4 linked regions of the Homo sapiens genome follow. The protein of the gene in region 2 interacts with the protein of the main gene of each other region in a pairwise test. Each region holds a gene or a part of one and is shown on either strand. Other genes may lie near its edges.

Evidence for each region.
Region 1: the proteins of UBIAD1 (region 2) and KCNJ6 interact in binary tests that used the Homo sapiens proteins (3 or more experiments, as listed by UniProt).
Region 3: the proteins of UBIAD1 (region 2) and PHACTR3 interact in binary tests that used the Homo sapiens proteins (3 or more experiments, as listed by UniProt).
Region 4: the proteins of UBIAD1 (region 2) and MGST3 interact in binary tests that used the Homo sapiens proteins (3 or more experiments, as listed by UniProt).

The regions. Positions count from the first base shown.
Region 1 is NC_000021.9:37,913,457-37,920,369, forward strand, and holds the start of KCNJ6 (G protein-activated inward rectifier potassium channel 2), read right to left. Parts: upstream 3,002-6,913; 5' UTR 2,428-3,001; intron 1-2,427. UniProt on the Homo sapiens protein: Inward rectifier potassium channels are characterized by a greater tendency to allow potassium to flow into the cell rather than out of it.
Region 2 is NC_000001.11:11,276,186-11,283,213, forward strand, and holds part of UBIAD1 (ubiA prenyltransferase domain-containing protein 1), read left to right. Parts: intron 1-2,228; exon of another isoform or gene 2,229-2,688; intron 2,689-2,991; exon of another isoform or gene 2,992-3,090; intron 3,091-7,028. UniProt on the Homo sapiens protein: Prenyltransferase that mediates the formation of menaquinone-4 (MK-4) and coenzyme Q10. MK-4 is a vitamin K2 isoform present at high concentrations in the brain, kidney and pancreas, and is required for endothelial cell development.
Region 3 is NC_000020.11:59,838,538-59,845,565, forward strand, and holds part of PHACTR3 (phosphatase and actin regulator 3), read left to right. Parts: intron 1-1,831; coding exon 1,832-1,893; intron 1,894-2,857; coding exon 2,858-2,998; intron 2,999-6,651; coding exon 6,652-6,728; intron 6,729-7,028.
Region 4 is NC_000001.11:165,648,218-165,655,245, reverse strand, and holds part of MGST3 (glutathione S-transferase 3, mitochondrial), read right to left. Parts: intron 5,406-7,028; coding exon of another isoform or gene 5,399-5,405; coding exon 5,282-5,398; intron 4,233-5,281; coding exon 4,159-4,232; intron 3,269-4,158; coding exon 3,211-3,268; intron 968-3,210; coding exon 895-967; intron 1-894. UniProt on the Homo sapiens protein: Displays both glutathione S-transferase and glutathione peroxidase activities toward oxyeicosanoids, as part of cellular detoxification as well as synthesis of bioactive metabolites.

The sequences.
Region 1 (6,913 bases), on a different chromosome or scaffold from region 2:
TGATTCCTTCCAGTTCTAGACCGAGAGGAAACTATATCTCCACCCTCTTCAGTCCTAGGACCCTTAGAAAGAATTTGGCTGGGCCGGATACGGTGGCTCACGCCTGTAATCCCAGCACTCTGGGAGGCTGAGGCAGGCGGATCACAACGTCATGAGTTCGAGACCAGCCTGACCAACATGGTGAAACCCCGTCTCTACTAAAAATACAAAAATTAGCCAGGTGTTGTGGTGTGCGCCTGTAATCCCAGCTACTCAGGAGGCTGAGGTAGGAGAATCGCTTGAAACCGGGACGCAGAGGTTGCAGTGAGCCGAGATCGAGCCACTGCACTCTAGCCTGGGTGACACAGCGAGACTCCGTCTAAAAAAGAAAGAAAGAAATAACAAACTTGGTTGGCTGGCCTCTCGCTGACCAGGGTGCTTCCACAGCTCCCTTCTGCCATCTATGCCCAACAAAAAGTTAAAGAGAAGAGCGTGAGAGGGCAAGGGATGCATGCTTTTGAAAGCCAAAGGGACTCAGCTGAAACTAGCAACCCTCGTCAGAGGCGGATCGGGGTGTGTGTGTGTGTGTGTGTGTGTGTGTGTGTGTGTGTGTGTCTGTGCGCGCGCGCGTCCTTTTTCTCCCCCTGAGGACAGAATCCTGTCTCCACTCTCAGTTCAGCTCAGGTCTTTCCCTGTCCCAGTGTTCTTGATTCTGAATAGGTCCTCTGATGCACCGCCATGCATAAAATGGATGATTTGCAAGCTTCTTTGCCTCACGTAATTCCGTGGGTAATTTGATATCCAGATTCTGCACGAGCCAAAGACTCATTTATTTATAGAAAGTGATTGACCTCCAGCGACCAAAGGAGTGGGTACTGCTTGCTGGGGGCTGCAGACAGGTGAGGCTTCACCCTCGGCGCCTGGGCTCTGGCCTTGGTGCTGAATCCGGAACCCGCTGAGGAACCACCACCTCGGCGGCCCCCAGGCAACTTTCGGGAGGTTTCAGGGGCACCCGGCCAGCTCTGGGCGCCCTCTCGAGCGTCGCCGTCAGGGAGTTGGGCACAACCGATGCCCTGGGACCCGCCACAGGGCACGCGGCTGGCGTATTCCTTTGCCTGGAGCCGGGAAAGTTTTGTCCAATTTTTTTCCCCTATAACTGGAGCTGCGGTCTCCCCTCCCACCTGGGTCGCCATGGAGACTCGAGCTCTTTTTCTTTCTCCAGGCAAAATGGGCGAAGCTCAGTTAGCTCAGCCCTGACTGTAGCAAGCCCTTTTTTCTCCCTAAGCAGTTCCTGGGCATCACCCTTTTCCGTTTCTTTTTTTCAGCAAAAGAAAGGCAGGCAGGGAACAGGGCTAGCAGGATGTGGCATTGCTCCCTGTACCGTAGGGCTCCCCGGGACCGACAGACTTTGGATAACAGCAGTTGGGAAACACTCTAAACATATAATACATCTCCAACTCCCAAACACTGGAGTTGTGGGGTTTTTTTTTTTTTCTCTTCCTTTTTTTGGGGGTTGGAGGCGGAATTCTTTGGAAAATTCTGGTATTTTGTTTCTCCACTAACCTCACCCTCTGTGGCTGTTTCTATTAAGATATATTTTCCCCCTGACAATCTCTCCATATTGCACCTAGTACAACAGATGTACCTGTGGATCCACTGGGCTTTTATTGGGTTTTGGGAATACTGATGTTATTTCACTTAAAAACTAATCCAAGCTTAATGTTTTGATGAAAATGAAAATATATCCACAGGGAAGCAAATATCCACAGCCACCCAGTCCTCTAAATGCCACACACATCTCATTTTATCTAAAGTGTTTTTTCTTCCCTTCCAATTACAAAATAATTCAGTTTACTCCTAGGAAGATCTTCCTATTCACTGTTTTTAGTCATGCTAGCACATCTTCGGTTTTAAGGATAGAGAACAGTTAGGAGTTACAGTATTCTGTTTCCCATTCTCCGCATGTTTCTCCCCAACCCTCACTTTTCCTCCCTTTCGTGTTGTCTCCTCTCCTCTCCATGCAAAGCAGAACAAGAAGACTGCCTTCCACAAAGACAATAGGCTTTTCCCAACTGTAAATGACTACATCACAAGCCGCACCTGTCAGTTAATCAGTGCATTTAAGTCTTTGCCAGCGGATGTTGAAATGATGTCTGCAATAACTGACTGGGTTTCTGCGAGCCCAGGGATGCAGACCCCTCCTTCCCCCGCCCCCCGTGCGAGTTTCAGTCGCTAATGAAAACCGTATGAAACAGATTCCCCTTCTGTTATGTAACCGGCTTCTCCCTCGCCTTTCGGCTGACTTGGGCACAATGTTTCTCATGAGAGTGGAGATGCCTGCGGCGACGGCGGAGCTGGGGAAGGGGACGCGGGGACCCGAGAGCACGGAACGCCTCGCCCAGGTGGACGCCAGCTCCTCGCCTGCGAGCAGCTCAGCGCACCGCTTACCTGGCTGCGGACGGGGTGGCTTCACTCAATCATGATCTCCTCTCTTGAAACGGAGCAAGACTGAACAATTCACTACACGACGGATGGCGAGGGAAGGAAATGCAAAAAAGAAAAGGAAAAGAAAAAAACTGGAATCAGATGGTCAAATTTCACATCAGCACCGAGAGGCTGTTAGGAGACTCCATTCTGCTCGCGGCTGCTCCGGCTCCAGGTCCGGCTTCCCGGCGTCCGCGGGTCTCCACCCCTCCGCCCGCCCAGCCTCTCCAGCCAGGTGCGGCCGTCTCCGGACTGGCTCCCTCTGGCCGAGCGCGGAGAGCAGGGCTGGGCGCTGGGGCCAAGGGAGGGGCGGAGGGGCGCGCGTTTGGGCAGGGACGGGGGAGGGAGACTGGGTGGAATGAAGTGGGGAAAGATAAGAGTGGCAGAAGAAAAAAAAAATCCCCGGTTAGGAGAAAAGTGGTGGACCACGCAGAGAGACGTCATGAAATCCGCAGATTCAATGAATGCTACTCAATTCCAGCCGACTGGCTGAGCCCCGCTGGCAGCGCACGAAGCGACGCGGCTCCGAGATAAAAGCGAGTGCAGCGCCGCGTGCTGGGGAAAAAGCCGCACAGCGCCGGCGCGGTCCGGGAGGAAGGGGCGGGGGCGAGCAGGACAGAGCCACAGACCCAGAGACGCCCACCCCGCCGCCCATGCCAGCTAGCGTGTCAGCGCGTCGAGGACCGGGCTTGGTGGGGGCGGGCTGGGCACAAACCAACGTGCATCCCCCGCCACTGGAAACGTGGGTGCTCCATGCTGGGGGAATCTTTTGGGTTTCGGTCCCCGACCCCCCAGTCCCAACCTTTCTCCCAGTGCCACTAAGTAAGTTATTCCCGGAGAAACGCCTGGAAAGCAGGAAAGAGCCGAAGCTCGGGGAGCAGTTTTGTCTGCTGGTTGTAGGGGTTCGGCTTTTAGGGTTTTGTGAGATAAGGAAAAAGAGGCTCTGGGCACTGCCTCCCACCGGGCTGAAATCCGTGAGAGGCAGCCCCGGCGCGGGAGCCGGAGCCTGCACCGCCCAGAGGGGGCGCAGCGAGCGGCCGGGACGGAGGGGAGGGGCCCTATCCCTGAGCTTTGCTTGCACCTGGTGGCGCCCCAGCCTGCTGCCCCATTCAGTCCCTTCTGTCCTGTCCACTGCAACTGGGACCTGGTCCCGGCTGCTGCATCATCACCCCATCCTTATATGATGTCTCTGGGGTCACTGGAGACAAAGAATGGCCTTTTCCAAGAATGACCCAGGCTGCCTTCAAAGTTGAATTTGTCAGGATAAGCCCCTTAGACAAAGGTCTACTCCACTCTTTGAATCTAACTTGCTTTGTGCTGTTATTCCAGGGGCCCCTCATAGTGCTCCCCTCTTGCACCCCCTCTTTTTCTTATGGTCATCAAAAACAATGGTTCTACATTTCCAAAGTCTTCCCATAAATTGCTTCTACCTATGAACAGAACTCTCTTTTATGCTGTCTTTTTCCTAGGGATGAATGGATTGACAAATTGTAAGAGTAGCGAATACCATTGGCTAGTAATTTTATAATGGCCCTTTCAATAACTGGCTATTCTTGTGCTGCTTTATGAAGTGGCTTTCCTTCCACAAGGCACAGAATCTCTACCTCAAAGAAGGTGACCTTATTTTAGAGAGAAGGCTTACGGAAACCTCTTATTTCCAAGATTATTTTATTCTACATACATACATTTTAATTACCTAGCAATTCAGGTCCCCTCAAGAATGCTGTCTGCCCTCTAAAAATGACTGTAATATGGAGAGGTGTTTGTGTCAATTTGCATCCAAAGTCATGTAAAAGTCAACCGTACACACGGCCTGTGAGCTTGTATTTGCTGTTGATTTTCCCTAAGAGGTTGTAATCTGACTTGCTATTACTTCTGAGTCATATATCCCATATACAGAAGATATGAGTATGTGTAATATCTGTAGTATGTGTAATACGTGCTCCACAATGCCTGCTGGATCTAGTGATAGTGTTACAAATAAACAAAGAACAACTGAACCAAATAATCCCTGAGAGACCAGGAATACAAATGCAAGATGCAGGATTTCGGTGGACACAGCCTTAGAACATTAAAAGAACAACCCATGTTGACTATAGTTGTGTAAAGGGCATTCTGTTTAATCTGTGAAGCTGCTATGGGTATGCCTGCTAATTTTGATGATATATACTTTTACCAGTAGAATGATTTCACAAAGTATCTTTCTTACAAGATATTAGACTAAATAAGAAAGTCAAGAGTTGGAAGTAACCTATTTGTCTCCTTCAAATACTTTGAAAACTCCCCTACTTGAAACAGCTGCCGGGGTGATGTGGGCAATAGCACTTTGTGAATGGCATAAGAGCACGTGTTGAATGAGATGGATCCCATTAACACAGCCTGGGATTTGATAAACACCAGAGACAAGAGCAATTGGCTTAACTGAATTCATTCATTTATTCCGTAGAGTTCTGATAAAGTGATCTGCATGGGTGTAACTAAGAGACTGCAGCCACATCTGAAAATCAGGCGAGCTGTGCTTCAGAGCTGCAAATTGTGGCTCCTCTGAGCTCCTGAGAGCCTGGTCTCTCAAACTACATTGTGTTTAGCTTGTCTGAAATCTCACTTATATATCTATTTTATGATTTCAGGTGAAGGCAAGGCCTGGGGGAGAAGATCTTTCAGGGTAAATCAGTGCTCCAAATCTCACAGTGACTTTTATAATTGATTGATTATGTCATACAGATGAGACTGGTTTGTCTCCCACATATAAAGCTGTAATGGAGACTTATTAGCTAGTAAAATTAACAAACTGAATTATCTTGACGGGCTGTCATTTGTTTTGGGTAATCTTGTTTTTCTCTGTCATTGATTGCGGCAATTTATAAACCATTCTATCTTCTTGGCCCATGTGTAGATCTGGCCTTGCCTTAGACAGGCTGACACCAGAACTAAGATGGTTGGGAGTTTTTGGTCTCCACCCTTGGGCCAGTACTTGTTTTAGATTTAAGACCTTAGCTGTTGTGGGTCTAACTATTAAGAGACCTAGTTCTTTTTCAGTTTCACTCCCCTGCCTGCTTTCTCCACAAAAACCCTACCACAGATAAACAATATATTTAAAATGCAGAGATGGGAACATAAATTTTAAAAAATTTATTTTGTCTATAAAAGGACATCTTAAAGAGTATCAAGAGATAAGTGTTAAAATTATTCTATTTTACATTTGTACTTCCAGTGTACTGAATGTGATATAGGAGTTAAGAAGCAATTACTTAGGCAGATAGTAAGGGTATGGGAGTCCTAGGTAAGGCTTTTCTTTTTAATGAAAATCAGCCCCAAATAATTTTCTAAGAGAGCAAGCAGCCTGCAAGCTGGGAGCTTGCACAGGTGAATGCGGGCAGGAACTAAGGACTAAAGATGTTAAATATGGCGGTCCCATCTTCCCGTCTCTGTTAGCCACGTGTACTGTAAACGAGCAGACAAGATGGTGCCAATCAACTGGAAAGTCCATTTGCATAAGAAGATTAGGGTGGGGCAACTAGCCTTCCCAGCACACTATGTAGACATCATACCTGAGTGAACCAACCTGTGAGCCCTCTGTAAATCAGACACCGCCTTCTCCAGCCTGCGTATAAAATCTGCTGCGGTCCTCTACCTTCTCCCTTTTCCACGTGTCTCTTGCTCGTGAGGAGCTGCTCTCCCCTCCTCTCTCCTTTCTTCTATTACACTTTCTGCTCCTTAACCCACTCACCTGTGTCTGTGTGCCGAATTCTTTCTCAGTGCATGACAATGAACCCCAGGGTATATACCACAGACAGCAGTAGCCACTTCAGATGGATTTCATTCATGTCTCTTATTTAGGGAATATCTGTAAACAGCGGTTGGTATTTCTTTGATTGATTATAAATTTGGAGATGTATTAAGAAATACATCTTAATTCTTAAGAAATATTTCTAGGTGTAAAAAGTTAAGAATTTTTGCTAAGGAGGGGGTTTCAGAGGGGTTTTAGCTCTGAGGCATTTTGGGGCTGGTCTTTAGAACTTTAGGATAATTTAGAACAATTATTGAGTTATGCCCTTTTCCCTTGATACACTTTTATCTCCTACGTGTTTTCCTTATTTTTGTTACAGTAGGTAGCTAGTCAGACATGAGCAGGGCAGAAGAGGGCCTTCCCCACCAGGCATGCCAGGAGACCGTCAGGTGATGGTCAGGCAGTTGTTAAACTGTCCGTCTACAATAATAATTGGTCACAGCTGGCACCAGAAAAAGTGGTCTCCCAATAGACAGAAACACCGAAGCTGGTGATCAGCAGCTTCCTGATGACATCTCAGGACTTAGGTGAGTGGGCTCAAGCATGTGGACTAAGGCAAAATGGCACAGTTTAACTGTCATCTAACCTTCTTCTAGGAACACTTGGCTGGTAAGGGAAGAACGCCTCAAGTGAGCATGCATACAACTCCAGTAAACACTG
Region 2 (7,028 bases):
GTTTGGTGGCTTGTATCTAGCGGGTGGTAGTGGAAGAGGTAAGTAGCCAGATTCTAAATATGCTTTGAAGGTAGACAGGGTTTGCTGATGGATTGGATGTGAGGTAAAGAGAAACAGAGGAATTAAGCATAACTCAAAGGTTTTTTTTTTTCTTGGACACATTCCACATTTTATTTACATTTTCAGACTAACTTTGGGCTGGGTGCTGTGCCTCATGCCTGTAATCTCAGCACTTCGGGAGGCCAAGGCAAGTGGATCACTTGAGATCAGGAGTTCCAGACCAGCCTGGCCAACATGGTGAAACCTTGTCTGTACTAAAAATACAAAAATTAGCCAGGCGTGGTGGCATGTGCCTGTAGTCCTAGCTACTCGGGAGGCTGAGGCAGGAGGATTGCTTGAGCCCAGTAGGCAGAGGTTGCAGTGAGCTGAGATCATGCCACTGCATTCCAGCCTGGGCAACAGAGAGAGGCTCCATCTCAAAAAAAAAAAAAAAAGACCAACTTTAGTTTCAAAATTATATCTCCATATATGTATCCCTTTTTTGTTGATGTCACTTAACCTTAAGTGCATAGTTTGTTAAAAAAAAAAAACTGTAAGCAAATATTTACCATGTCTGTTACGTGTAACACACATGAACAGCTTTTAACAGAAATTCATCAACTCCCCCCCAACATTTTTTATTATAAGATAGGTATCAAAACAATCCTGAACATATTTTTCATACTACTAGTAGTCAGCACCCACACCACTTCAAAAATTAACACATTTGTGCTGGATGTGGTAGTTTTTACCCATAATCCCAACACTTTGGGAGGCTGAGGCAGGCAGATCACCTGAGTTCAGGAGTTCGAGACCAGCCTGGCCAGCATGGTGAAACCCCATCTCTACTAAAAATACAAAAATAAGCTGGGCATGGTGGTGCATGCCTGTAGTCCCAGCTACTTGGGAGGCTGAGGTAGGAGAATCGCTTGAACCTGGGAGGTTGTAGTGAGCCAAGATCTCATCACTGCATTCCAGCCTGGGCAACAGAACAAGACTCCATCTCAAAAAAATAAAAAAAATTAAAAAAATCAAACACATTTGTGACAGTGTTCATTGTACCTGCTACTTTTTTTTTTTTTTTTAATTTAACGGAGTCTTGCTCTGTCGCCTAGGCTGGGGTACAGTGGTGCGATCTTGGCTTACCACAATCTCCGCCTCCCAGGTTCAAGTATAATCCCAGTAGCTGGGATTACAGGTGCCCGCCTGGCTAATTTTTGTATTTTTAGTAGAGACGGGGTTTCGCCATGTTGGCCAGGCTGGTCTCTCTAACTCCTCACCTCAAGTGATCAACCCTCCTTGGCCTCCTAAAGTGCTGGGATTACAGGCGTGAGCCACTATGCCTGGCCAATACCTGCTACTTTTTAAACAATTTCAACTGCAGCTCTCTTTCACTAAGCAAGATGGATAAAGCATGCCATTTCTGTTTTCTTTTTTCTTGAGACAGAATTTTGCTCTTGTTGCCCAGGCTGGAGTACAATGGCACGATCTCGGCTCACCACAACCTCCACCTCCGGGGTTCAAGCAGTTCTGCCTCCGCCTCCCAAGTAGCTGGGATTACAGGCATGGGCCACCACGCCCTGCTAATTTTGTATTTTTAGTAGAGACAGGGTTTCTCCATGTTGGTCAGGCTGGTCTCAAACTCCTGACCTCAGGTGATCTGCCCACCTTGGCCTCCCAAAGTGCTGGCATTAAAGGTGTGAGCCACCTCTCCTGGCCTCTGTTTTCTTTTTCCTTTCCTTTTTTGTTTGAGATGGGGGTCTTACTCTGTCACTCAGGCTAGAGTGCAGTGGTGCGATCTCAGCTCACTGCAACTTCTGCCTCCCGGGATCAAGCGATCATCCTACCTCAGTCTCCTAAGTAGCTGGGACTACAGGCGCGTGCTACCACGCCTGGTTAATTTTTGGATTTTTTGTAGGGACGGACTTTCACTATGTTGGCCAGGCTGGTCTTGAACTCCTGGCCTCAAGTGATCTGCTCGCCTGAGCCTCCCAAAGTGCTGGGATTACAGACATGAGCCACTGTGCCCAGCCCTGTTTTCTTTATTGAGATTTTTAGTCTTTAGAAACACACATGCTTCCACTGCCATCTGACACTTCTTACCACGCTTTCATCTTGTAAACCTGAATTATATTTCGAGTACTCCAAGTTTATGTTTAAATGACAGTACCTTAACAAGAGAAAAAAATTGGGTTGCATTTTTCCTGTTACCTGAAAACATAATGGGTGTACATATATTAAATATATTCTTACAAATGTCCAGGTCATGTTTACCAGCCGGAGTTCTTTTATTTAACGTGTGGGTATTTTGCATTGTGATATTTAATCAAGACATTAACACGAGTAGAAGGTTGTTGATATAAGACAAGTTTGAGATCCACTAAAATTAATTGTTGTATGTTTGTCCTTCCAGTGGCTGTGGAAGCTTCATATTTTCTTTGGACATCATTAGACGTCTTAGCTCCTGAAGTACAACTTTAATGCTATATGAATTTTGTCATTTTGCTAACACTGGTGTGCTGCGGTCATCCACCATCCCACTGGAGTTATTTATTCCATTCATATTAATTCTTGTTACAAATCTAACTGATGGGGGAGCTTCTGGGTATTTGGGTCCACTTTCTATTTTCAGGCTATATATTCTTTTTTTTTATTTTTGAGACAGAGGCTCGCGCTGTGGCCCACACGGGAGCGCAGTGGCGTGATCTCGGCTCACTGCAACCTCTGCTTCCTAGGTTCATGTGATTCTCCTGCCTCAGCTTCCCGAGTAGCTGGGATTACAGGTGCACACCACCACACCCAGCTAATTTTTTGTATTTTTAGTAGAGATGAGGTTTCACTATGTTGGGCAGACTAGTCTCAAACTCCTGACCTCGTGATCTGCCCTCCTTGGCCTCCCAAAGTTCTGGGATTATAGGTGTGAACTGCCATGCCCGGCCTATATTCTCTTTTCATAATTTGTCCTTGGTGGCCCAATAATCATGCCTGTCCACCTTGTAAATGTCATATCTTCATCATCTTTAAGGCCCCAGTTAATCATACCATTGCCTATCAATAGCTGCATAAGCATAACTCAAAGGTTTTGACCTGAGAACTGGAAGATACCATCTGGAGTGATGTCATCATGTGAGAAGGGCAAGGCTGGGGATAGAACAAGTTTTGGGGGAAAAGCAAGCAATTGACTTCGTGGTTTTTTGTTTTGTTTTTTGTTTGTTTTGAGACAGAGTCTCACTCCGTCTCCCAGGCTGGAGTGCAGTGGCATGATCTCGGCTCACTGCAGCCTCTGCCTCCCGGGTTCAAGTGATTCTCAGCCTCCCAAGTAGCTGGGATTACAGGCGTCTGCCACCATGCCTGGCTAATTTTGTATTTTTAGCAGAGACGGTGTTTCACCATGTTGTCCAGACTGGTCTCAAACTCCTGACCTCAGGTGATCCACCCACCTTGGCCTACCAAAGTGCTGGGATTACAGGCATGAGCCACTGCGCCTGGCCAACTTTGGACATCTTAATGTCTATTAAATCTCCTAACAAAGATGTCAAATGGGTAGTTCAAGTTCAGAGAAGCCTGGGCTAGAGATTACATATCTGGGAGTCATTGGTCTATAGATAAAGTTGTAGGACTGGGTGAGGTCATCAAGGGGGAGGGAGTGTTGGTAGAAAAGTCAGTCCTGGTCTGAGCCCTGGGACACTCCCACATTAGAGGTGGGGGAAGAAAAGGCACAGGTAAAGGGGATGTGAGCAAGCATCCAGAGGAGTAAGAGGAAAATCAAAAGGCTGTGGTGGCCTGGCAGCTAATTATAAAAAGTTCAGTGAAGGAAATCAATGAGGTGGTGTAATAGAAAGTACAAGGTGGTGGTGAAGGGAAGAGGCTGTCTTTGTGAAAGTGACGTTCAAACTAGGACTTGAAGACGGAAGGATAAGGAGCTGGCCACGGGGTGGAATTGGAGTCTGATTGTGATGCTGAGTCCTCCAGGGCTGAAGGACCACTAAGTGCAAATGTGGTGGGTGAGAGAGAGTGTGACATTGGCTAGGATCTACTGAAAGGTCTGTGTGAGCCAGAGGGGGCATGAGACACAGTTGGTGAGTTAGGCAGGGTCTCTGTCATGGCGATCTTAACCAGTCCTACTCCCCAACCTCCAGGGCTCAGTCCTTGGGCCTCTTTTCTCTATCTCCATGTACTCCCTTGGTGATGTAGCTCATGGCTTCAGATGCCATCTGTTAAGCTAGTGACTCTTAAACTCCAGACTCATATCCAACTTCTTGCTCAGCAACTTCTCCTAGAACTGTCTCATAAACATCTCAAGCTTAACATGTCTGAGACCAAATTCTGATCTTCTCCCCAAGGAAACCTGCTTCGCCCACAGCTTTTTCCCCATTTTGCTCAATGGCAGCTTCATCCTAGTTCTTCAGGCCAAAAGCTGTGGGCATCGTCCTTGACTCCCACGTCTCACATCCAGTTCATCAGCAAATTCTGTTGACTCTCCTTTCAAAATGCATGTAGGATCTGACCACTTCTTACCGTGTCCAGCCACCACTGTGATCATCTGTCCCTGGATTTTTGCGGCAGGCTCCCAACTGGTCTCTTTACCTCTGTTCTGGTCCCATTCAGGCTGTTCCCACTCAGCCACCAGAGTAATTCTGTTAAAATATAGGGCAGCCCTGTCAGTCCTGCTTAGAACTCTTCAGTGGCTCCCATCTTGCTCAGAGTAAAGGCCAGGGTCTTTACAGTGACTCCCTAGGGCCCTACATTCTTTGCCCACCTTTTGCCCTCCCCCCAGTTCTCTGACCCACCCTCCTCCTTTCTTCCTGCTCATCCTGGGCCAGCCACACTGCCCTTTCTAGTCCAGGAGCATGCACAACCCCTCCTGCCCCTCCCTCAGGTCCTTTGTAGATGCAGCTTCCTCTGTTTGAAATGCTTTTCCTGCTTCTAACCATGTGGTTCACTTTCTCACTTCCTTCACCTATTTGCCCAAATGTCAGCTGCTCAGTGAGGCCTTGCTTTCTACCTTGCTTAAAATTACACACCCACTCCGTGCCCCCACCTGATACTTCCCCTGCTGCTCTTCTCTGCATTAGTTTTCCTCATAGCACATGTTACCTTCTAATGTGCCATATAAAGTACTTAATTGGTTAATTATCTTCCCCCTTCGACTGCGAGCTCCCTCCCTGCAGTCAGGGATTTCTGTCTCTGGTATTAGCTGAACCCCTAGCACCCAGAGCACTGCCTGGCATGTAATATTACTTAGTAAATATCCAGTGAACAAATGGGAAGGCATTGAAATATACTGAGCAGAGTAGTGACATAATCTGGTTTAAGATTTTTTAAACATTGTCTTTTATTGACATATAATTGACACACAGTGAAATGCACAGGTTTTTAGTGTTGCAGCTTGATGAATTTTGATAAATGTATACAGTTGCATAACCCACACCCCGTCATCATCCAGAACACTTCCATCACCCCCAAAAGCTTCCCAGTGCTTCTTGCCTGTCAATCCCACACTCCCTGCCCCCATCCAGAGACAGGAAAAGAACCACTGTTCTGATTCCTCTCACAGAGATTAGTTTTGCCTGTCATATAAATGGAACCTTTCACTATGAACTATGTATGTATGTATGTATGTGTATTTATTTCAGTCTGAGCTCTCGTCTGGCTTCTTTTGCTCAGCGTGATGTTTTTGAGATTCATTGTTTTATTGCGTGTATCAGTAGTTCCTTTTTTTGCTGACTAGCATTCCATTGTAACATACCACAACTTCTTTTTATCCATTCTCCTTTTCAGGGACATTTGGATTGCTTCCATATTTTGGCTATTACGTCTGAACATTCATGTTCAAGTCTTTTTGTGGATATTTGTTTTCATTTTTCTTGGGTAAATGCCCAGGAGTAGAATTGCTGGGTCACAGGGCAGATGATGTTTAATTTTATGAGAAACTGCCAAACTGTTTTCTGAAGTGGTTGTACTTCTTTACACTCCCCCCAGCAAGTGTTCCAGTTGCTCTGCGTCTTGCCAACTTTTTGACTTAAGTCTTAACAGATTCATTCTGGCTGCCGTGTGGAGAACCGGCCCAGTATTTCACTGTGTAAGCTCATTCAGAAAATGGGGTTGGGAGAGGAGGAATGCCTAAAAGGAAATTCCCAGATGGGCCACGTCTCTGAATCAGGTAGAGCACATGAAGCCTTGGGCCATGTATCAAATGCTAGGAAACAGCTTTCTCCCCAAGGGCTCTACTGTTTTCTTGTGTCAGATAACCAGATCTTTTTCCTCCCCAGAGTGGGTTGCTCTTGGTTTTGGGGTGGGGACAGAGATCTCTGCTCAACCTTGCTTACATCACTTTTTTTTTTTTTTTTTTTCAAAAGACAGAGTTTAGCTCTTGTTGACCAGGCTGGAGTACAATGGTGCGACCTCTGCTCACTGCAACCTCTGCCTCCTGGTTCAAGCGATTCTCCTGCCTCAGCCTCCCGAGTAGCTGGGATTACAGGCGTGCACCACCATGCCCGGCTAATTTTTTTTTGTATTTTTAGTAGAGATGGGGTTTCTCCGTGTTGGTCAGGCTGGTCTTGACTTCCTGACCTCAGTTGATCCACCCGCTGTGGCCTCCCAAAGTGCTGGAATTACAGCGTGAGCCACTGTGCCTGGCCTTTTTTTTTCTTGAGACGGAGTTTTGCTCTTGTTGCCCAGGCTGGAGTGCAATGGCACGATCTCGGCTCACCACATCCTCTGCCTCCAGGGTTCAAGCGGTTCTTCTGCCTCAGCCTCCCGAGTAGCTGGGATTACAGACATGCGCCACTACACCCGGCTAATTTTTTGTATTTTTAGTGGAGATGGGGTTTCTCCATGTTGGTCAGGCTGGTCTCGAACCCCTGACCTCAGGTGATCCACCTGCTTCAGCCTCCCAAAGTGCTGGGATTACAGGCGTGAGCCACCATACCTGGCCGCTTACATTGCTTTTTGCCGAGTGATCTAAGGAGGTGTTCTTGGAGACTCCA
Region 3 (7,028 bases), on a different chromosome or scaffold from region 2:
ATTCAGTACTTGGTATATATTCCCTCATTTAATCATTGCAACATATTTGTGAGGTTTGCACTTTTTAATAAATGAATATTGGGAAAAGGATAGCACTAGAGTTCAACCCCAGGTCTGCCTAACTCCATTGCCCATCTTCTTAACTACTGCATCAGAAGCAGTAATACATTTCTGGATATTCATGGAAGTCTCAGGTATAACTGTCCAAGCTGCTGGAGCTATTTCCAGAAAATATGAGTATAGCAGTCCTGATTATGGGTCCCTTGCTTTGTATAATGCAGAGGGTGTTCTGGGTCTGGAAATAAGAAATCCATAAACATATCACTAAGGGGAGCTCAGAAGGGGAGGTCTGTGGGCTTAGGCTAACAGGGAGGACTTCTTGGAGGAGGTCTCCAACAGAGCGCCTGGCACAAAGCAGCACTCTGACAGGAACTTTCAAAGATCAGTTCTCCAAAGACCCTGCTGGTGACCTTCGTAGTAATTATGGCATTTTTCAGGATTAAAAAAAAAAAAAAGATCTGACTTTGTTTCAATCTTTTCACATGGAAGCTGCACTTGGGAGCTGCCCATGGCCTATTTTAAAGAAATCTGAAACATTTTACGTCACGTAAATCCCTCATGGCTTGCCTTGTCTGGACACTTTCACAATGTCTCTCTAATTGTATCAGCTTTCTGATGATACCTTAAAAGTATGGTTTCTTCTGGTTTCTCACTTGTATAAAGAATTAAGCAGAAAGAGGATTTCATTACCTTTTCTAAAACACCCTAATCCAAGATGACTCACTTAAAAAAAATTACTGGAAAGCACAATATATTAAACTCTCATATAACCAATCCCACAAATGTATAAATATTTGAAACGCATCTTTTACATAAAGGCAGATAATGTGAAATTGTGTTAATTGCAAGTGGCAGGATTTCCCTTACCAAAACCTACCAGTGTTTCTAGGAGTGCTGATTGTTGAAATCTCTTTCCTAGGAATGGAGCTATGTTCAGGTCAGGGACATAAGGCTTTATTTAGCAACAGAGAACACCAGAAATAGGACAGCCATTATCTTGTATCCCAGGGGGAAGCTTACGTTTTATACTATATCTCAGCACTTTCGTCTATTTTTGGCTTCCAAGGGTAGGTGCGAGCACAGCTTGAATGTTAATAGTCACAACTTACCAAGCAAAGCTAATTTTGCTGAGGGACTTGGGCTCCTTTAAAAGGCACTGTCATATAACAGTGTTCACGCTTCAGCAATGGAGAGTCAGCGAGGTTCATAGATGTGTTAAGATTTGAAATATAGTCTGAACATATAAATTCCAGGCAAGCATATGCTGCCCAGGAGCTGAAGAAGGTGTTCCATGTTTTATGTTGGTTAAAAAGTCTGTACGCTTATTAAGGAAAAAAATTAGTGGCAGTGCTATTTATATTGAAATGTACATATACATTTATTTACTTAGTCTACTACAGCTTTTTTTATGTGGCATCTAAGTGCTAGATGTAAATATAAAGATATTTGGGGAGAAAGACAGACACAGAGGTGTCTACTTCCTTAAACAAACAGCAGCCATATCTGTGGTTGTTTCTAATGCACAGAAGGGCTGAGGAGACCAGGTTGGGATGACAGCAAAGCTTTGCTTAGTACAAGTATTTCTGTGTAATGAGACCATGATCTCCTGAGCAGTGACTGACAAAGTGGGAAGAAAACACCATGAGTGATGTGGAATTAACTTCAGCTCCCAGAAATATGGATATCTTGGGAACACTTCCCTGCTGAAGAGAAGAACGTTTCAACCTGTTTCTCTTTGTTATTTTTTTTTTCCTATTTTAATCTTTCACAGAAAGGAATGATCAGACAGAGCAGGAAGAAAGAAGAGAAATCAAGCAAAGATTGACAAGAAAGGTAGTATAAGCATTTTATTGCCTGAATAATAAAAGGTGGTCTAGAGAACAGCTGCTTCGGTAGCAGGTGGGATGGGTAATGCTAGGTATCACTCTGTGATCATGAATAATGTTCTCCTGGACATCATGGCATCAGTTAAATCAGGATATTTGCTCAGCAACAATGAATTAACTCCCTCTGACGTTCCCTATGGACGAAGTCCTTCCCTAGCACGGTAGCACTTGGAGAGGTGCACAATGCACATGACATTTTTTACTTATGTTCAGGTGGAAGCCAGAAGTTGATTGGCATTTTCTTAATTTACAGTGTCTAGGAAAAGCATACCTGGGTATCAGTGTTTTAGTCACATTTTACACTCATCGCTTTTGTTCACCTCCAATATGTCTAGAAGTTCCTCAGTTGCAGAAAGCTTTATTAGACTCAAAGGTTTGTTCTCTGTGACTCAAACAGTTAACATTTACTATGGCCAATACAGGTAGCAACTCTATAAATCTTAATCTACTTTTAAAGCCTTGACCATTTCTAAATTCAAGTGTTCTGGATTCCCCTTCTTCGTTGTGCTGCTCCATAATAATTCTCTTGAAATTAACAGAATATCCTTCCTAAGCTGGACATATAATAACTTTATTAGTACTTTTAAAAAGCTTATCTAATTGTATCTGAAGCCAGTGATGCCATAAAATCTAAGTTAATTCACTAACCATTCCTTGAGCTGGTGCTATGTACTACTGGGGGTGTGACTCCTTCTGATAAAATATGTTGGAGGAAGGGGGATTGTGATTTAAGAGTACAGTATATAATTTCAGCCCTTCACATTAGAGATTGCTTGTATTTGGGTTATATTTTCCAGTTTCAGGTTTTTTTTGTTTTGTTTTGTTTTTTAAGAGAAGTGCTGTTTGTTCAGAGTACTTCAAAAAAGCTAGTTTGGCATGTGATACTTAACTATGATGATCTTTAATTTTAGCTTAATCAGAGACCCACTGTTGATGAATTAAGAGACAGAAAAATTCTGATACGATTCAGTGATTACGTGGAAGTAGCAAAAGCGCAGGACTATGACAGGAGGGCAGACAAACCCTGGACGAGACTGTCAGCAGCAGATAAGGTACCTAACTGCCTGTGCTGGTGGGGGGTGTTGGATGATATAATAAAGGCAAAATATGTCATGCCAGGGAGTTTATTCATAGACAATGGGAGCCCTCAACTATTTAAGGGTATACTGCAGTAAATATTGGTTTCTCAAAGATAATTCAGGGTCAGATTGAGAAGTGGTTCTCAGCTAGGTGACAGTTTTGCCCCGAGGGACATTTGGCAATGTCTAGAGACATTTTTGATTGTCACAACTCGGGATGCTACTGGCATCTCCTGGTAGAGGCCAGGGACACTGCTCAGCATCTCACAATGCACATAACAGCCCCCACAACAAAGGATTATCTAGTACCAAATGTCAAGACTGTGGAAATTGAGAAACCTTGGTATAAGGGATAAATCAAAGGTGGGCAAGGCTGCCATAAGAGATCAACTGACAAGTTTAAACAAAAAGAGCTACAGTGGGGACAAAGAGGCATTCAAGAAAGCCTCTACAGTATAGAAAAGGTTCTAGATTCTCCCCCTGGACTTGTGCAGTTTGAGGTATCTCTGAGAACCTCCTAAGAAGTCTGAACTGAACAGCTAGAGAGGCAGGAAGAACACAAGGAGGTAGTAGGTCATAGAGTCTCTGCATGACATTTGGTGAGCACAGAGAGGGTCAGTTCTTGTCTGTGATCAAACACTTGACTGGCAAGATTTAAGCCCAAGAGTGTCCATAGAGTTTTGTCACCTTCTTGCTTCTATTAATTTTCAGAAGACTTAAAGCCTTTAGGAAGAGAAAAATTATACATTCAGGCAAGGAATTTGCTAATTGTTCTTCATTCTTCATATGCTGAGTATGAGTATGTACACAGATATTGCATCAACTTGGAGAAATGTGAACGTGTTGGACTAACTTGCCTGGTTCTTTGTGACTGATGTGCCCAGAGGATCACAGTGATGCGAGGAGAAGTATCTTTGGTGGTCTGCAGATGTGTTTGAGTATGAGAATAATATACCCCTAAAGTTCTTAAAGACTTTCCTTGTCCCAGAGGCTGTGTTTGATGTTTTCAGTCTCATCAGGTCCCTCGAGTGTTTATCTGAGAAAGAAGTACATGATGCAAGTGGGCCTGGGGAAGCCAAAATATTAATGTATGCTGAAGTTAGAAAGGCTTATTTCTAGATTATCTCTGATTATAAAATTCCAAGTTCACCAAAAGCTGAAGTTTACTCATTATCTTGGTGTTCCTGTTTCATTAGTGCCCTAAGCATGTGCTTGGTCCGTTTAGGTATGGAGTGAACGGAGTTTGGGGAAGGGTTGTCTTCCCACTACAGTTCAGCAAATTAATGAATGGAACACTTACATAATACTAGTCCTAGCCAGAGCAATCGAGCAACAGAAAGAAAGGGCATCCAAACTGGAAAAGAGAAAGTCAAGTTATCCCTCTTTACAGACAATATGATCTTATACCTAGAGAAACCTAAAGACTCCACCAAAAACTTAGATCTGATAAATTCACTAAAGCCATAGGATACACAAAATCACACAAAAATTAGTAGCATTTCTATAAACTAATAATGGACTAGCTAAGAAAGAAATCAAGAAGGCAATCTTATTTAAAATAGGTACCAAAAATACCTGAAAATGAATTGAACCAAGGAGGTGAAAGACCTCTACAAGGAAAACTACAAAACAATGATGAAAGAAATTGAAGAGGCCACACACAAATGGAAAGATATCTCATGCTCATGGATAGAAAGGACTAATACTGCTAAAATGACCATAAAATGACCAATGCAATCCCTATCAAAATACCAATGTCATTTTTCACAAAAATAGTAAAAGCCATCCTAAAATTCATGTGAAACCCAAAAAGAACCTGAATAGCCAAAGTAATCCTTAGCAAAAAGAACAAAGCTGGAGGCATCACACTAACTTCAAAATGTATTATAAGGTTATACTACCAGCATAATATTGGTATAAAAGACACATAGACCAATGGAAAAGAATAGAAAACCCAGAAAAAATTCACTTATTTACAGCCAACTGATTTTTGACAAAGGTGCCAAGAACATAAACTGGGGAAAGGACACTCTTCAATAAATGGTGCTGGGAAAATTGGATATCCATATGGCAAAAGAATGAAACTGTACCCCTATTTCTTACTATATACAAAAATCAACTTGAAGAATAAAGACTTAAATGTAAGACCCCAAACTATAAAACCACTAAAAGAAAACACAGAAGAAACAGTCCAGGACATTGGTCTAGGCAAACATTTTATGGCTAAGACCTCAAAAGCACAGATAGCAACCAAAATAAACAAATGAGACTATATTAAACTACAAAGCTTCTACACAACAAATCAACAGAGTAAAGAGACAACAGGGAATATGAGAAAATATTAATATCTGCAAACTATTCATCCAAAAAGGGACTAATATCCAGAATATACAAGGAACTCAACAGTCAAAAAACAAAACAAATAATCCCATTAGAAAGTAGACAAAAGACATGAGTAGACATTTCTCAAAAGATGACATACAAATCGCCAACAGGTATATGGAAAAAATGCTCAACATCATTAATCAACAGGGAAATGCAAATCAAAACCACGATGAGATATCATCTTATTCCAGTTAGAATAGTTATTAAAAAAATAAAAACATGCTGGAAAGGATTAGGAGAAAAGTGAACTTTTATATACTGTTGATGGGAATGTAAATTAATGCAGCCATTATGGAAAACAGTATGGAGACTCCTCAAAATATTGTTTAAAAACTATATGATCCAGAAATGCCACTTCTAGGTATACACGCAAAGGAAATCAAATCAGTACATTGAAGAGATATCTGTACTCCCCTGTTCACTGCAGCATTATTAACAATAGCCAAGATACAAAATCATCCAAGTGTCCATCAATAGATTAATGGATAAAGAAAATGTAGTGCGTGTATATATGTATATGTGAATACAGTGTGTATACACAGCCACACAAAATGGAATATTCCACCTTAAGAAAATCCAGTCATTTTTGACAACATGTATGGAACTGGATGTTATTATGTTAAATAAGCCAGGCACAGAAAAACAAATATCGCATGTTCTCACTCATGTGGGATCAAAAAAGTTGATGTCATGGAGGTAGACAGTAGAATGATAGATACCAAAGGCTGGGAAGGGTGGCAGGGTTTGGGGAGAGAAAGAGAGGTTGGTTAACCAGTAGTAACATACAATTAGAAGGAATAAGTTCTAATGTTCTATAGCAGAGTAGGGTCACTACAGTTAACAACTATGTTGTGTATATTTCAAAACAGCTAGAAGAGAGGACTTAAAATGTTCCCAACACATAGAAATGATAAATACTGGAGGTAGACATCCTAAATACTTGATCATCACACAGTCTATGCATATAACAAAATATCACATGTACCCTGTATATATGTACAAATATTATGTATCAATAAAATTTTTACAAAGACTTCCAGAATATTAGCTACATACTAGCTTGGTAGGACTATAATAATGAGTATGGCAGTTTTAATGATGAACCAAAAAATTGTTTGTTTTTTTCTGTATATTACATAATAGAGTCAACAAGGATTAGGAATGGTTAATTTATAAACACGATGCTAATTTCCTGATTTTTTTAATATCCTGTAAAACAATGTCTTGTTTTTAAATTTCAGGCAGCAATTCGTAAAGAATTAAATGAGTACAAAAGTAATGAAATGGAGGTACATGCATCAAGCAAGCACTTGACAAGGTCAGATTTGTTTCTGTGAATTTCATGGTACTTATTTTTGAAACACACACCGCCTTCCCCCGTCCCCCGCCACAAACCATGTATCCAGCTATACAAATTCAGCATTTTTCCAGAGAACTCTATTGAACAAATAGAATGTACCTCAAGTAAGAATGCTGCCTGCTCCCATTATTTCCTTTAGGACTTGGTGAAAGGTGATATGTATGGTAACAATATCGGTTTATTTAAGTAGTTAATGCATATTTAACAAAAATAAGCCTCAAGGCAATGAAAGTAATTTTTCTGTGTATTTAATTCCCC
Region 4 (7,028 bases), about 150 Mb from region 2:
TTAACTAACTCTTTAGCCTGAAGCTGTTGGCAAGTCAGATACCACATGCCAAGTAACGTGCCACAGTAGTATTGCTTGGATCTTAGAAAATTATGGGATAATAATTACAGCAACTTTGCTCTAGGACCTTTGGAAGGAGTTCCCTCTGTTTCAAAGAAGTACAGCTAAAAATGGCTTTTCCTCCTCCTTACTCAGATATAGGAGGTATAGTAATGGTGAGGCTCTGGAGTCGGACTGCATGGGTTTGATTCCTAGTTTACTAGTTTACGCTTAGTAGCTCTGTGACCTACAGCTTTAATCATGCTGAGTCCCAGTTTCCTAATTTGTAAAATGCAATAATATCTGTATTACAGAATTGTTGTAAGGTTAAATAACATATGCAAAGTTCTTAGAGTAGTGGTTGGCACATAGAAAATGCTCAATAAAAATAAGTTTCGTTACAATTGAAAGATTAATAAAAAGAAAACAGACCTTTCACCTAAATATCAGGTGACTTCCCCTTTTCTCAAATTCCCAAGAAAAAAAATATAGTAGCATAAGATTTTATTTTTTTTTGAGATAGGATCTTGCTCTGTCTCCCAGGCTGGAGTGTAGTAGTGTAATCATGGTTCACAGCAGCCTGAAACTTCTGGGCTGAAGCAATCCTCCCGCCTCAGCCTCCCAAGTAGCTGGGACTACAGGTGTGCACCACCACATCCGGCTAATTTTTGTATTTTTTGTAGAGACAGGGTTTCACCATGTTGCCCAGGCTGGTATCCAACTCCTGAGCTCAAGCAATCTGCCTGCCTTCGCCTCCCAAAGTGCTGGGATTACAGGTGTAAGCCACTGTGCCTGGCCAGCATAGGATTTAAAATTTTAAAGTTGTTTCCTTGGCAAATGTCAATATATACTAACCTCCCGTGTAATAGCCATAAGCATAAAGAACTCGTCCAACAATCCAGGCCAAGCCCAGGCCAGAAGCTATACGCTAAGAAAAAAGGGCTACATTAGTATTTGCATGAAAGAAACAAGCAAACCTTTTTTAACACCTAGGGTTGATTACACAATATGTTAGCAAAAAGTTAACAATTTGATGATTTGGCCAACTACTCCCCACGCAAATTAGGTAGAATTAAGTTAGTTTCAGCGGGAAAATAAAATATCTGTGATTCTTCTATGAATGGCTTGGCTTGTGGACCTGGGAGATGAGTATTGGCCTTCTCCTAGACAGGTGGGATAGAAGGAATCCCCCCACTTGCCCTGGGCATCTTGGGGAACTTGTGTCAGAGCTCAAGAGAAGGACATGTGGGCCAGCCGGTCTCAGGGCAGGCCAGAAAAGAGAACTGCCCCAAAGTCAGGACTAGGGGAAATGCCGTTTTCTCAAATGGGCCTCTGAGCATGAGATTGACTGAAGACTCAGCTGCTGTTCTATGTGAAGTCAGTCACTGGCAGGGCTGGGCTCAGGTGGTTCTGCAGGCTACACTGGGGGTGTAGCTCCACTAGAAAGAAGGGGAGCGCTTCTCCCAGAATACATGGTCTTCGAGGGAAAAGTCTCCCTGTTCCCAATGTCCTTGAGAAGAGAGAATAAAAACTTAGATGAAAAATCCATCCCTTTGGCTGTCATGCTGGGGTGACTTCCTTGGTTAAAATAAGCAAGGAGAGAACACAGAAGACAGCATGTGAGAAGGCCGCCTTCCCCAGTGTCTTTCCCACTCAGCAGTGCTACTGTTAGGGATAAGGTTACTGCATCAGGGTTTTTGTTTGTTTGAGTTGATTTTGGGTAACATTAAATGTCAACAGGAGGGTGAAACAAATGAAAATAACACCAGTCCCTCAAGTCACGATATAGCAGCTCTAGTCTCTGCCAGGCCCTTCTTTACTATAATGTTGCCTAATGACTGGCAACCTAGGAACAATTGTTAGGTGCTTGTCCCCAAACTAGCTCTTATTTTTCAGAACTACCCATAAGGAATGGGATCCAGGGATGTGTGATAGGAATGGGGATGGAGTGGGGACACCAAATGAGGACTAATCTAGAGACCTGAGCTATTCAGATCAGCTAGTCTAGTCACTTGCTAGGAATGGGGATCTTTAGAGGCACCAGAAAGATACATTTTCTAAGAGATACAAGAGCAGTAGATGTTTCTTTGAAAAAAATGCAGGCCTTCAAGGTCATAAGCAGTAGATATGCCATTCTGGCAGCTTTTTAACAAAAGTACAAGGCATTCAGGATGAACCAGATGGTTAGGAAAGGCTTAGAACCAGAAGTCTGAAGGGCCACTCTGGTCAGAACTTGGTTTCAGGAGATAATCTGTCCTCAGAAAAGGGGAACACTTCTGTCTAAGACAAGACCCAAATGGCAATTAATTAGAGGCTGATAAACTTGCTTTATTTAGATATGTTTAAGTGCAGACTAAATCTCCATCCCACAGGGCTATCTATACTGCAGAGGCCTGCAAGTCCCCAGTGACCTGCCTCATCACCCCTCTGCCCTCTGTTGCTGCCCCTCTCCTGGCTCCATTGGCTTCTCACTGCTCACCAAACAAACCAGACAGGTGCCTGCCTCAGGCCTTGCTTGTCTTCTGGCTGGAGGTTGGGGAAACTCGTGCAGCACCTGCTCCCTCACCTCCTTTTATACTTGCTTAACTATCATCTCAGCAAAGCCCCCCTCCCTGACCACCCTATTCAAAATTATCCCACTCCACATCCCCTTTCCACCTTCCCCACTTTGTTTTCTTCTCTGCACTCACCACCTCCTAACACATGATGTAATTTACTTAGGTTGCTTCTTCTCTGTGACCACCCCACACCCCACAACAAAAAGGCAAGCTCTATGAAACCAGGGGTCTTTGTCTGCTTTGATCACTGCTTTACCCCAGGTGGTGAGTGAAAGTTTGTTGTGTGAATGAATTACTATAACAAATGAACTCTTATAGACATGAAACTTAGAACCAGACAGACCTGAGTTCAAATTCTAATCCTTCTACTCTGTAGCTATTTGACCTTGTGAAGTTTAAATAGTATATGAGAGGCTTTTCCTTATCTGTAAAATATGAGGAAAATCCCATCTCCTTTAAAGAACTCTGTAAGAAATAATTGAATAAAATCCTTTTAAATATGCAGTGCCTAGACACTGAAGATATTCATTAAATGTTTATTTCCTTCTTCTGTCCCTGATAATAGCTCAGTGAACTACTATCCAAATAGATGAACACCTCCTGGAAAACTTACCGGGTGGTAAACACCTCCAACAGCTAGAAAAAATAAGAAGGGAGGATACACTTCCAACCTGGAATTGACAGAAAGAAACTTTTAAAAAGTGCCCTTTTTAAGTATGCCTGTGTAGAATTATGAATTTTTTTTTTTTTTTTTTTGAGACGGAGTGTCTCTGTCACCCAGGCTGGAATGCAGTGGCATGATCTCAGCTCACTGCAACCTCCGCCTCCCGGGTTCAAGTAATTCTCATGCCTCAGCTTCCTGAGTAGCTGGGATTACAGGTGCGTGCCACCATGCCTGGCTAAGTTTTGTAGAGATGGGGTTTTGCCATGTTGACCAAGCTTGTCTCCAACTCCTGACCTCAAGTGATCCACCCACCTCGGCCTCCCAAAGTGCTGGGATTACAGGTGTGAGCCCACCTCACCCAGCCAGCACTATGAATCTTTACATCTTCCTTGCCAAGTTAGAAGCTTGGGGGTAAAAATAAACATTCACCGCAGGGAGAAGACCTGGTCACTATCATCCACCCTCCTTTGCTCTGCATGGGATTAGAGGTCACTTGGAACATGCTGAGTAAAAGGACCTCACATCTAACAAATGGAAGTGGAAGGTCCTGGTGAGTCAGAGTGGGTTTCCTTACAGCATTCAAAACCTCTTCACTCCCTAGGCCTGGGAGAGTCAACATCGGTTTAGATGGGTCATGCTGCAAAACTGTAGTAGGTAATGCAACCATGAAGACATTTTTTGAAAAGAATATCCCGAAATCCCACCATTCCAACCACTCTTAAGTTTGCTTAATAGTCAATGTGTTCACATACATAATTTTTGAATACTTTTAATGAGGTGCCCATGATTGTCACCATCACTATGACTCAGCAAATACAGCGCACTAAGGGCTGAGGTGTTAGACAGAAAACACCCACTCTGCAGATGTCTTTGGTGCCCGGCAGGGCCGACACTCACGTGTTCTGGTGGGCTCGCTGAATGCAGTTGAAGATGTGCCCATTTTCAGGGTCCGTGCTGTACATGATAGGATACTGTCACAACAAAGCACATACTGATCAGATGGTCAAGAGGAGCATTCAGTGTTGAAAGTTAAAATGAACCTTAAAAACAATATATTCCAAAGTATCTTCTTTCACACCCTTGATAGATGACCATTCAATTTCTGCTTAAATATTTATGGTGACAAGGGTCTCAATTCTCAGAAGCAGAGTCAATGTTTCTATTAAATATCCAGGAATAAGAATGTATGTCTGCGCTGTAGTTGCACAAGGGAAAGAGGCAGCTTTGCGCCAAACTCCGTGCTTTTCATTGACGTTAAGCATCAATGGTGGATTTCAGATGCATTACAAAGATACTGTAGGGAAATAGAGCCTTCCTAAGAGTCATCAAATACCACATCCTTTTAAGATTTCCCTTAATAGAAGAACAGAAATTGAGTGTGTGAGAATCTTAATGGAAGTGTCCACTGGAAGGGAAAAAAAAGAAGAAACTAAATATAAAAACTTAAAAGAAGCTCTAGTAAGGGAGTTTAATTATTAAGTTGCTAAACAGAAACAGACATTTAAAACCACTCACCAGGGACAACTTTGGTAATTATCCCTTCTAGATCACCTAAAACTAAAGGAAGTGTTTAATAGACCACCTTCCTATGTCTAAGTCCAGGCTAATCTCAACACCACATACCTCTTTTCTACTTGGAAAACAGGAAAATCACCATAAGACATCATTTTTAAAGTGGCACACCATGAAACAATATTGCTATTTAACCCTCTGTGGAAAATACAGTAACTCTCTTCCTAGCAAATAGCTCCAAGCAGAAGTGTACTATTGGAATCCCAGCATTCCTGGTCTTTCTACCGAAGAGACAAAGTCAAACAAGATGGAAACTACTCCCTAGCAGGGCCCTGTATTTCTTGCCTCTTTCCTACCATGAAGAAGCAGAATCGCTAACACAGTCCTGAAACTGCCACTTCTCACAACTAGCTCCTTGCCTCTCCCTCCATGGCTGAAAATAAGTTCTTGGCTAAGCCTGTGGCCCCCAGACAAGCCTACAAGGGCACCAGCTTGTGTTCCCACTTACCTCCACTTTGTACTTCTTGCGGGCCTTGGAAACATTGATGGCTAGGTGGGCCACCATTATAAAGCTGGCAGCACCAGTTAGAAGCACAAAACCATATTCCTTAGAGAGGACAGCCATCTTGCGTCTGTGGAAGAAAGAACACGTTGGGACGGCCCCCAGCACTGTGGCTATTTCATGGTGTGAAGCCTTAGGGAGCAAGATGCTTTATTACTGGCAAATGAGTAAATAGAGACCAAAAAAAGGTATGAATCAATCTGATGTTTCTGAGAAGTCATCAAAGACAGTACCATATAAAATAATTTAAAAATTACTCAACTATGCAGTCTATACACAGAAAAGTATACAGTCATGTATCTTTTTTTCTCTTTTGTGCCTGGGAGATTCTGATCAACATTATGAGATTTATCTACACCACTGCAGTAGTCGTTGCTGTAGAATAATATAGCCAACAAAAATCACATTATTGAAAAAATATTTAACATGGTAAAATGCTAAAGTATACATTACATAGGGAGGGGGAGGGAGGGAGTGAGAGGAGCAGGACATGGTGGGGAGAGGGATGGAGAGGGAGAGAGAGGGAGTGGGGAGGGAGGAGAGGGAGAGAGAGAGAGAGAGAAAGCAAGAAAGTGAGAAAGCAAGAAAGCGAGCATCCAAAATAGTATATGCACAGTGATTCCAAGTTTTTTGCCTTCAGACATGGGGGACACTGTGAGGGCAGGACTCTGAGGCCTCCCTTCGATCCTGGGGCACGTGCGGGTGCAGCAGCAGACATCTCACACAGGTAGGGGAAGGCCCAGGTTGAGTACTCTGAAAGCAGAGCATGGCTCCTGAGCCTATGAGGCTTTGGGCAGCTCCTGAGGAACTCAGATTGCCCATCAAATCATCACTTCAAAGGCTTCCACGAGCCAGCAGCTCTGGTGTGTGTTCTGCCGTCAGCTTTAAAATTTCCATCCCTGGTAATTGCCTGGCTTCAGTCCCTGCTTTTAACCTAGGAGAGTTACCCTGATCTGGAATGTATCTAATCATCCTAACAAACCAACCAACAAGATGGTAAATCCTTATTTTCAAAAGAGGTTAAGTAATGTTTCCAAGGTCTAAAACAGACAGTGACAGACCTGGGATTCCCATTCAGATTCATTTGGTTCCAATATTCCCTTTCAGTATCCCTTGAAACTTTAGAGCCAAACTGACACTGTGGTCAGAGCATCTTCCTTAAAACAGAATTTGGGATAGGCATGCAGCTCAGTTCATTAAAAGTAAGTTTCTCTTAGCACAGCAAAATAGGCCTAACTGCTTTTTTTTTTTTGAGATGGAGTTTCACTCTTGTCGCCCGGGCTGGAGTGCAGTGGCACGATCTCGGCTCACTGCAACCTCCATCTCCCGGGTTCAAGTGATTCTCCTGCCTCAGCCTCCCAAGTAGCTGGGATTACAGATGCGCACCACCACACCCAGCTAATTTTTGTATTTTTAGTAGAAACGAGGTTTTGCCATGTTGGCCAGGCTATTCTTGAACTCCTGAGCTCAGATGATCCACCCACCTCGGCCTCCCAAAGTGCTGGGATTACAGGTGTGAGCCACCGCACCCAGCCTAACAGGCCTAACTTCTTAAAACCCCTCCTCCCCACCATGATTCACAATAATTCTCATCAGTTTTCCCCTTCTACCGTCTTCACTCTGAGCTGCTCTCTGAGGCATGCCCGCTGCCCCTCCGGGGGCTGGGGGGCACACACTGCAGCGGGCTGGTTCC